Regions from separate parts of the Homo sapiens genome. Here region 2 is linked to region 1. The links come from fine-mapping of genetic effects on gene expression. A gene starts in region 1. The other region holds a variant in brackets. All regions are shown on one strand. Distances are between the middles of the regions. Region 1 holds the start of MRTFA (myocardin related transcription factor A). Region 2 overlaps MRTFA (myocardin related transcription factor A).

The links. PIP is the estimated chance that this variant, and not a neighbour inherited with it, causes the effect.
Region 2: its variant is the best candidate, but not a certain one, in a credible set for the expression of MRTFA in whole blood (TOPMed, PIP 0.88).

What each region holds. Positions count from the first base shown.
Region 1 is chr22:40,634,665-40,640,041 of GRCh38, reverse strand. MRTFA (myocardin related transcription factor A) reads left to right here and starts at 3,323. Exons shown (of 15, transcript NM_020831.6): 1 at 3,323-3,564. RefSeq lists enhancers at 1,050-2,249, 2,989-3,298 and a silencer at 3,559-3,868.
Region 2 is chr22:40,460,518-40,465,894 of GRCh38, reverse strand. It overlaps MRTFA (myocardin related transcription factor A), which reads left to right. Exons shown (of 15, transcript NM_020831.6): 4 at 2,609-2,674. Among named protein-coding and RNA genes, the nearest start is that of MRTFA-AS1, 59 kb to the left of the region's middle. RefSeq lists an enhancer at 2,237-2,346. The variant A/G (reference allele first, on the strand shown) is at 2,895.

The DNA of each region.
Region 1 (5,377 bases):
GGAGTCTCACTCTGTCGCCCAGCCTGGAGTGCAGTGGCACGATCTCGGCTCACTGCAAGCTCCACCTCCAGGGTTCACGCCATTTTCCCACCTCAGCCTCCTGAGTAGCTGGGACTACAGGCGCCCGCTACCACACCCGGCTAATTTTTTGTATTTATAGTAGAGACGGGGTTTCACCGTGTTAGCCAGGATGGTCTCAATCTCCTGACCTCGTGATCTGCCCGCCTTGGCCTCCCAAAGTGCTGGGATTACAGGCGTGAGCCACCGCGCCTGGCTTTTTTTTTCTTTGAGACAGAGTCTCTCTTACTCTGTCACCCAGGCTGGAGTGCAGTGGTGGGATCTCGGCTCACTGCAATCTCCGCCTCCCAGGTTCAAGCAATTCTCCTGCCTCAGCCTCCCGAGTAGCTGGGATTACAGGTGAGCATCACCACGCCCGGTTCATTTTTGTATTTTTAGTAGAGACGGGGTTTCACCATGTTGGCCAGGCTGGTCTTGAACTCCTGACCTCAAGTGATCCTCTGGTCTCGGCCACCCAAAGTGCTGGGATTACAGGTGTGAGCCACCACATCCAGCCTAACCCTTTATATATACACAAAATATATATGTGTCTATATATAGTATATAAAACGTATACAATTTAAGTTGTCCAGAAAAAGTATAGAGATATTTGTGAGACGGTGAGGTTGCCTGCAGTCTCTGCCATGAATGGGCAGATCTCTTTTCCTGTGACTAATAAAATACACTTGTGCCTCCTCATTACCTGGGCTTTTTAAGGAGGGCTGTGTCTGGGTGGGTACTATCTGGAATGCCCCACCTTGGTCATGTTTTGGGGAAATCTGCCCCACCCCAATAATTCCAGTGGGGGTACTTTCTCCTCCGAGGCGCACTTCTGCATCCTCTTTTTTTTTTTTTTTTTTAAATACGGAGTCTCGCTCTGTCGCCCAGGCTGGTGTGCAGTGGCGCCATCTCGGCTCACTGCAAGCTCCGCCTCCCGGGTTCATGCCATTCTCCTGCCTCAGCCTCCCGAGTAGCTGGGACTTGACAGGCGCCCGCCACCACGCCCAGCTAATTTTTTCTGTTTTTAGTAGAGACGGGGTTTCACCGTGTTAGCCAGGATGGTCTTGATCTCCTGACCTCGTGATCCGCCCGCCTCGGCCTCCCAAAGCGCTGGGATTACAGGCGTGAGTCACCGCGCCCGGACTGCATCCTGTTTTTGTTTTTTGTTTTGAGATGGAGTCTCACTCTGTCGCCCAGGCTGGAGTGCAGTGGCGCGATCTCAGCTCACTGCAAGCTCTGCCTCCCAGGTTCCGCCATTCTCCTGCCTCAGCCTCCCGAGTAGCTGGGACTACAGGCGCCCGCCACCACGCCCAGCTAATTTTTTCTGTTTTTTAGTAGAGACGGGGTTTCACCGTGTTGGCCAAGATGGTCTTGGTCTCCTGACCTCGTGATCCGCCCGCCTCGACCTCCCAAAGTGCTGGGATTATAGGCGTGAGCCACCGCACCCGGCCTGCATCCTGTTTTAGTCACCTGGGATACCGGCCTGGCATTGCAGTCACCGCAGTACGTGCCTTAGCATCCTCCAGTTTGGTGTAAGCACCCCCAGGGTAGTGACTGTATCTCATCTAGCTTACCCCCTCAGTGTTCTTACTCAAAAAATATTTATCGAATAAATAATTTTATCAGGTATTTTGTGCAAGAATTTTTGCCTTGGGGAAGGTGTGTGTGACTAAGAGCCCACGAGGATCCCGTCTAACTCCAAGATTCTGCGACCGGCATTGGAAGCTGATTTATAGTGAGTAATTGGGAATACCCAAGGCCACTTTGACTTTTGCCGCCATTGGATAGAGCAGCACCCTCTCCTACCCTCCCTCTGAGTTCACCCATGGGCAGTCCCAGAAGCCTTTGATGGGGAAAAGGGGGTCATAGTGAGAATTTACCTTGGAATGTAAAGTGAGCCGCCCCTTTTCAGTCTTTGCATCTTCACGCGGGTCCGCCCCAAACCTAGAAGAACGCCCCTGACCACTTCTTCTTCTATCTACTGTTACTCCTTCCTCTGACTCTGGTGACCCCATCCCGGAAGCCTTCCGGAAAGCGCTTCCCCCTTTTCCACCCCATCGAGTTGGGGTTATTTCTCCTTTTCTGGGCTCTCTCCCATTGCTGGGGAGGAAGGCGGATACGAAGGGCCTGCATGACCGCAGCTGTCATCACAGTGGGCCTGGCTTACCTTGTTGCTCTCTCCCCTTTCGCCTTTCTCCTTTCTCCCTGTTGCAGTCATGGACTTCACTCATAATACATATACATATACATATACATATACATATACATATACATATACACATACACATACACATACACATACACATACACATACACATACATATACATGTTTTTAAATCGGGCAGCCACCCGCTCCCCGCCCTCAGCCCGGAATAGGTTCAGAGAGGTGCCCGGGTTCACTTGCGGAGCGTGTGGCCTCTGCGCCTAACGCGCGCCCCTTCACTACACGAATGGGTGCGGGCAAGGGTATAGGATTTTAGAATTCCAAGAGTTGTCGGGGGTCATCCCGTGGAATCCTCTTTTTTGCAGATGCTCTTCCTGGAGCCTTCCGATGCAAGCTCTTGGGCTCACGCAGCCCTTTTCCTCTTCTAAGCCCAGAGCGCTTTCGCTGCTGCTGATCTCCACGGCCTCGGCAGATAGGGAGGGGCAGGCAGGTGTCAGCGTCCTCCCTTTCACCGTTGGGGAAACTGACTCAGAGAAACAAGGCGACGGGCCTCGGCGGGGCGGGACCGTAACGGGAATTCAAGGCTCCAGGCCAGAGCGGAATTTATTGTGTCTCGTTTTGGGAAGCGTGAATGTGAAATGATCGACTTCGGAGCCCCAGGCGGAGACCCTTCAGTCCCCGACAAGAATCGGGATGGGGTCTGGGATTAATGCAGTAATTACTCGCGCCTGGGCATTGACCCCTTGGCAACTTCGCAAGATCCGGCAGGGTCCACCGCCCTTCCCTTCACAGGGTGACCACAGGGCTGCGGCCTCTTTAAGGCCCAGAGCTCCGCCCCCGGCTCGTCGCCAACCCCCTCGCCGCAGCTCAGCCAGTTCCAGACTTTCCTCAGAGATGAGGTCATCTCCCCGTTGCCCATTGGCTGCGCCGTGCCGTCAGTCACAGGAAGTCAGGCCGCCGTTTTCGCCTTCTTCATGCCGCTTCCTTCTCCGCCCGCCCTTTAGTCCGCCGATCACGACCCCGATCAGGCCTCTGATTGGCTAGCGCCGCCGTCACTTCTCCAGCGGACAGTCTTCAGGACGGGAGGCGGGCGTGGTGGGCGGGCCCGCAGCTTCCGTGGCTGAGAGGAGCCGGCGGCGGCAGTGTCTGTGGTGGCCGCGGCGGCGAGAGCGACGGTCCCATCTTTCCCACCCTCTTGGTTGCCGCTGGCCACACGCCCTCCGCTGGCGGCGACTTCTCAGCTCCGTGCGCCCGGGCTGGACAGTGAGCCTCGAGAGGAGACGCGGGCGGCTAGAGCCGGAGTGGGGCGAGCCGCGGAACCCGGCCGGGAGCCGCGCGAGGCGGTGAGTGAGAGTCCGGGTTGGGGACCCCTCCCCCACCGCGGCCTCGCCCCGCCTGGAGCATCCTTTTTCCCCCCCGACCCTGCTGCGCGCGTCCTCGGGGGGTCGGGCGAGGCGGCCCTCGCGTCCCCTGCCCTCTTCTTGCCGGCCTTCTGCCCCTGCCCTCGGGGCCGGAGTCGCAGAGCGGCGGTCACTGTGCCGGGGCTGGGACCCGGGCCGGGCCGGGCGGGCGGGCGCGGTCGTGCACCTGTGCACTGCCTGGCAGGGCTGTGCTGCGCGGGGCGGGGAGGCACGGAGGTCCTCGCCCTCGCTTCTCCCGGGATGTGTTTTGATTGCAGGGACGGGGTGTCGGCCGCTTTCTCTGGGGTCTTGTGCAGACCTTCAGGATCCAAGTGCAGTCCTTGGGATTCCCAGGCAAGGAGGCTCAGCTGGACTTGTTGGTGCCAGTATAGCAAACCTGAATGCTGCCAGGTGTACAGGGCTCTGCAAATCTGAAACTTGATGGCCAAGAACTTTACCTCCTAAGAAAGCGTCTGTCAGGACGCTGATGCAGTCCACCCTCCCCGCTTCGGGTACCTTTGATACTCCATAGTGCCTAGGGCTGGACCTTTTGAGTCGACTCCCAAACCTGCCACTTGCTAGCTGTGTAATCTTGTGCCTTGGTTTCCTCGTCTGAAAAATGAGGATAATAGCACCAATCGCATACGGTTGTTTGTTGTAAGTGTCGAATGAAATAATTCACGTGAAGCGTTTGACACAGTGCTTGGCCCATAGTAAGGGCCCAAGAAATGTTTGCTTTTGGGATGTTGAGAATGCCTGGTTTGCCTGTGTGCCTTTAAGCACTAGCCCAGCTTGGCATTGTCAAGATTTCTCTCTGTTGTCTCCCTGTTATGCAGCATAACGAAAGGGCAGTTGAATGGTTAACTTGCTTGCCAGCCTCTGTTTGGCATGAAGTGTGTGTATATACAGGAATGTGGAATACATCACTTAAATATAATAATGGAATTACCCCATGCTTCGTATGTTTTTACATAGTTTTAAACTCATAAGACGTCTGGAATGTCCCCGAGTTGCAAGTTTTTGAGATCTTTTCAGGGTCCTTTCTACATCAAGCCGAAGCCTGTAACGTTAAGACTTATTGTCAGTAAGAAGTTAGACCTACATGTTTTACTTCAGAAGACCCCCAAAACTCCAAATGTCACTTACGCAGTTTTACTGTTGAAAAGCAGTCATCTCCCGGGGGTGAGGTGGTACAGCCAGCTGGCCCACAGCCCTATGACTGCAGGGTGGGGAACCTTTGGCTGGAAGTTATTAAACTAAGTTTTGCTTAATGTCGTTTGCATTTTTCATAGCGAACCAAAGGGCTTTATGTTACTGTTTCTTATTGAAATGATTTAGAAAGAAGCAATCCATTACTGCGTTCTTTAAAAACACCTGCAAAGAAAAAAATATCTGTAGTTTAGCTCTAGTGTTTGTTTCAGTTTTTGGCCAATAACTATTAAGAAGAGCCCGTTTTTAAGAAGGCTTCCAAAAGTCACATCCACTTGAATAAGTTATTTAGAGTCAAATCAAGAGAGGTGGAAGAGTAATATGTATCCCATCACCCAAAAGTATTTATTGGAGAGTTTCCATGTCCTTAGTACTCTGCCAGATGCTATTAGGGAGTGATTAAAAAGAGTATGAAATAGAATCTCAGCCTATAAAGGGCAAAACCATAAAGTTTGGGTCACCCGTTAGTAATTACAAGTACTACTTAAGGGATGACTTCATTTATTCATTCAACAGACTTTTTGTTCCATGTTTGTAACGTGCCAGG
Region 2 (5,377 bases), 170 kb after region 1:
GGTAAAATAGGATTAATAATACCTATCTTGGCCAGGCATAGTGCCTCACACCTGTAATCTCAGCACTTTTGGGAGGCTGAGACGGACAGATCACTTCAGCCCAGGAGTTCAAGACCAACCTGGGCAACATGGTGAAACCCTGTATCTACAAAAAAAAAAATTAAAAAATTACCGGGCATGGTGTCATGCACCTATAGTTCCAGCTACTCCAGAGGCTGAGGTGGGAGGATCTGTTGAGCCAGGGACGTCAAGGCCTTGGTGAGCTGAGATCATGCCACTGCACTCCAGCCTGGGTGACAGAGTGAGACCTTGTCTCAAAAAATAAAACACCAAAATGTATCTTCATATGGCTGTTAGGAAGAGTAAGTTAAAATATAAAAGAATGTAAAACAGTGTCTGGCACAGAGTACGTGCGTCATAAGTGTCAGCTATTATTGTAGCTCCTGCTGTTTTTATCGATTTAGTTCTCCAAGGCTTTGTTCTTAACAATGGTAATTTGTAAAATAATAATAGCCTCTTGGTTCAGTTTCTCAGACTGTTTGTAACATCCTTTTGAGATCCAGTTCAGTACAAGAAACCATTGTTGAATGCCTACTATGTATTAAGTGCTATGGGGGACATATATCAGTAAGGGATATTCTCTTCTCTCCAGGAACTTATAAACTGGTAGGAGAAGTAAGATGTTCAAGGGCTACTATTACACAAGGCAAAATATTATACTTTTCCCTAACATATAAAAGGTAGCTCACAGGAGGCCTAGAGTAACTGAATGCTGTGGAGTGAGTGGGGAAGTTCAGATGAACAGGGTAGGCATTTCCAGGTGAAGTGAATAAAAGAGGTAGGAAAAAATTCACGGTACTTGAGGAAGAGTAACTGGCCAGGCTTGATTAAGATAACTTGAAATGGGAGAGAGACACTACAGGCAAGGACACAGCCAGGGAGCTACCACTGCAGCATGGGAAAACATGGCAGGGTAAAATTGATAAGAGGGGAGTGTGAGTGTGAGGAGGTAGAGTTGAAGTTGGCCCAGACATTTAAAAAATACTGGGAAAGATAGTGATATCATTAAAGAAGTAAGAAGGATGGGAAGGGGATTAGGTTTTTGGGAGGAAAACAAGTTTGGCTTTGGATCTACTGAATTTGAGATGTAGGCAGGCGCATGGTTATGGTTCTGCGATTCTTGGACGCCTCCCTAAAAGCTACTCTGTGGATAGAAAAAGGCAGATATTAAGATGATTCCCAGTAGATTCTGGTTCCTCTCAGATGTGACTTGGAAGGCCCCTACACCTGAAGACTTAATTATGTAAGGAGGCTTTCCTTGGCCCGTGGGATCCTCCTAACCCTCCTCCTCTGAACATTTTCTTTTTTTTCTTTCTTTTTTTTTTTTAGACGGGGTCTTGCTCTGTTGCCCAGGCTGGAGTGCAGTGGCATGATCTCAGCTCACTGCAACCTCTGCAGTTTCTCATTTAGTCTCTGAATGACAGCTGTGCCATTGTCATTCTGTGTAGTTTGTAGTTGTAACACCGTTTAGGTTTAACTGGCTTTTGAAAGAAAGATAGTTGTTTTTTTTTTTTTTTTTTTTTTTCCTGAGACAGCATCTCACTCTCGTTACCCAGGCTGGAGTGAGAGAGAGTAGTGTGATCTCGGCTCACTGCAACCTCCGCCTCCCAGGTTCAAGCAATTCTCCTGCCTCAGCCTCCTGAGTAGCTGGGACTACAGGCGCGCACCACCACACCCGACTAATTTTTGTATTTTTAGTATAGATGGGGTTTCACTGTCTTGGCCAGGCTGGTCTCGAACTCCTGACCTTGTGATCCGCCCGCCTCGGTCTTCCAAAGTGCTGGGATTACATGTAGGCATGAGCCACTGTGCCTGGCTGATAGTTGATTTTTAACTTAAAAAAAATCCCTATTAAGTTTTTTCATTAAGCAGTATTGCCAGAGTGAAAATAAGAGAAACACCCATCAGTCTCCCCTAGCCCGGATGTGCTTTGAGTCATCTAGCTGAATTGTTTCACCTCAACAGAAAAGGCTCTAAGTGAAGAGAAAGAAGAAAAACAGAGGCATATTAACGGTAAAATATTTTCTAGGCTAGAAAAAGGCATTGCTTGGTGAAATGGCTATAATTTTTAGATACAAAAGAAAAAGAGTTTACAAATAGTACTTCCTGATCTGTGTGAGTAGTTCTTTCATTCACTATACTTATGGTGGTAAACATTTGTTAAGCGTAGAGCATCTGGAAAGCTTTTTTTGCTGGGTGGTGGTCCTCGTTAGGATATTTTGAGTTTGGAAGAGGTGTTTTTAAAAAAGTTTTAGGAGGAGGACTCAGTGTTTTGGAGGTTTTGAGCAAAAGGCAAGACTCTGATGCTTTGTGGATTGTTATCGCCCTGCAAGACCCTTCGCAACTTCCTCTCACCGCCCACAGCAGAATACGGAAACTCTGCTGTATCAGGCCACTTCTGCAATTACAGACAGTTGCACTTCAAGGGGACCCTTCTTTCACACTACATCCTTCTGTTTTTAGACTTTTTTTGCGTTTGAAAATGTGTTTTTTGAGGTGGAATACCCAACTGACCCCTCATCTCTCCTCTCTCTCTGCTGCCCTGCAGTGCTACAGTTGAAACTCCAGCAGCGCCGGACCCGGGAAGAACTGGTGAGCCAAGGGATCATGCCGCGTAAGTGCCTCTCTCTCTCAGCATTTGGTAGATTGCTTTTAGGACATGGCTGTGTTCACCGAGTATGCCATGGGAAGCATCTAACATAAAACAAGGATGATGCGTTTTATTTTCCACTCTCTTCTTTCTCATGACTTTCCAAGTTTAGAGCTCAATCACTAAATAGTTAAGATAACTAATTGATCAAGTTCAGTGAAACAAACTGTGTTTAAAGGGTCAA[A/G]CCTGGTTTAAATTAGGTGTAAAGGGTGCCACTGAATTTTCCTTTACTTTGGAATTGCACCTTTAAAAGAGTTTTCACTCTGTTATACTTCCCTTTATAGGAGGGGCAGATCTTGAGCCTGGTGTATTGTGAGGAAGAACCACTTCTCCCATATGCTTTGCCTTCATGTTCTGGTTCTTAGGAAGAGAAACCTCTTTTCTGGTATTTTGAATCAACCACAGTTTTATGTAGAGTGAGATCCTGAGATACTCTAAGGCTGGCCTGGGCGTGAGCATGGCTGAGTAGAGTCGTTGATGGCGCTATCACGGCACCGGGCTCAGTGGGTGCAGAAGTCCATCCCTTAGGGGAAAAATGAAACCAAACCTTGGAATCTGTTAGAAGTAAGGAAATTTGCCTTTAATACCAACAGCATTATAAACGGAGCTGAAACTGGAGCTGGTGAGGTTTTGATCTTTCGGACCTTTCTTTTTTAAATCATCAGCAGAGAACATAGGCTCTCTTTTCTGTTTGTATGTTATCACTACTTGGATACACTGTAAGTCAAAAAACAATCATACAACTTCTGGCTTCATGGTGGGAGAACTGATGTTTTTCACTTTAACTCATTGTCTGCTGGCTGACTGCTACCATATTTTCCTAGCTCTCATTCATTCATTCATTCATTCATTCAAAATCTTTGAGTACCTAATATGTGATAGTTGATGCAGCAAGATAAATCCAGCTCTTGCTCTCAGGTGATTTATATTTAGAAGGGCAAGACTAGTAGTAGACAAGAAATTTCAGAGCAGGGATCACCTTGAAATGCAGTTGGTAAGTTCAGAGCCTGGTAAGTACTATCAAGTAAATTAACTGATTGGTGTGTTAATAAGTAATAGGAATAAGATGGAGTCACTTCGAATAAGATGTTCAAGAAAGGCCTCACTGAAGAGGAAAGATTTGAGCTGAGATCTAAAGGATCAGATGAAGCTGGCCATTCAGAAAGCAGGAAGAGGGCTCAGAGAGAAGAAAAAGCAAGTGTCTGGGCCTGGTGCAGGCCAGAAGTTGGTGTGTTTGGAGATCATCAAGTAAGCCAGTGTGGCTGGGGCATGGTGGAGAGAGAGAAGGGGCAAGTGAAGATGGGTAAGGTGGGCAGGGCTAGAGCCAGGGCATTATCACCCACATGGAGGAGGTGGATTTGGCTTTTAATTTTAATTTTTTTTTTTAAGACGGAGTCTTGCTCTGTTGCCCAGGCTGGAGTGCAGTGGCATAATCTGGGCTCACTGCAAGCTCCGCCTCCCGGGTTCACGCCATTCTCCTGCCTCAGCCTCCCAAATAGCTGGGACTACAGGTGCCCACCACAGCGCCTGGCTAATTTTTTTTTTTTTTTTTTTTTGTATTTTTAGTAGAGACGGGGTTTCACCGTATGAGCCAGGTTGGTCTCGATCTCTTGGCCTCGTGATCCTCCTGCCTCAGCCTCCCAAAGTGCTGGGATTACAGCCTGAGCCACTGTGTCCGGCCTTCATTTTAATTTTTAAGAGATGGGGTCTTGCTATGTTGCCCAGGCTGAACTCAACCTCCTGGGCTCAAGCAATCCTTCTGCCTCAGGCTCCTTAGTGGCAGGGACTACTGGTGTGCATCACCATGCCCAGCTGGATTTGGTTTTAAGTGCAATGGGAAGCCATTGAAGGCTTTTAAGCAAGTCAGAATGGACCTACCACAATAGTGATAGGGTCCATTTCTAAGAGAACCTTATAACAAGTGTAAGAAGCCTGGGGTCTATTTCTTTTAACTTTTTTTTTTTTTTTTTTTTTTTTTTTGAGACAAGTTCTTGCTCTGTCATCCAGGCTAAAGTGCAATGGCATGATCATGGCTCACTGCAGCGTCCACCTCTCTGGCTTTCAAGCAGATCTTCCCACCTCAGCCTCCTGAATAGCCCTGGGACTGTAGGTGTGAGCCATCATGCCTGGCTAATTATTTTTACTTTTTATAGAGATGGAGTCTACCTATGTTGCTCAGACTGGTCTTGAACTCCTGGGCTCAAGCGGTCCTCCTGCCTAACCCTCCCAAAGTGCTGGGATTACAGGTGTGAGCCACCTTGCCCGGCTTGGGGTCTATTTCTATCCTAAACATCAGCCCAGGGAGCTTAAGTCCCAAATTAATCTTTTTGTTTACTGCAGTTCACTGCCAGACTATTTACCTACATTATGCTGTCTTCTGTGGCCCTCCAGTGAAGGACTCTCTACCCCCAGTTCTTAAAGTGTTAGGTGGCTTGTTCATTGTATCAGCAATGTGATCAGGTAGGGCAATGCTGTGCTTTACAATACACTCCAAACCTCCCAGTCCATACTGTGGAGAAACAAGATAGCTACCCAGTTTCTCATCTACTTGTCCCTTTCACCAAGGACATCATATACTTAGTGTCTACTTTGTGCCTAGGGTAGTCCTAGATGCTACCAAGATTAAAGAAGTAAGAGGCATGGTATCTGCCCTCAAGGCATTGAACA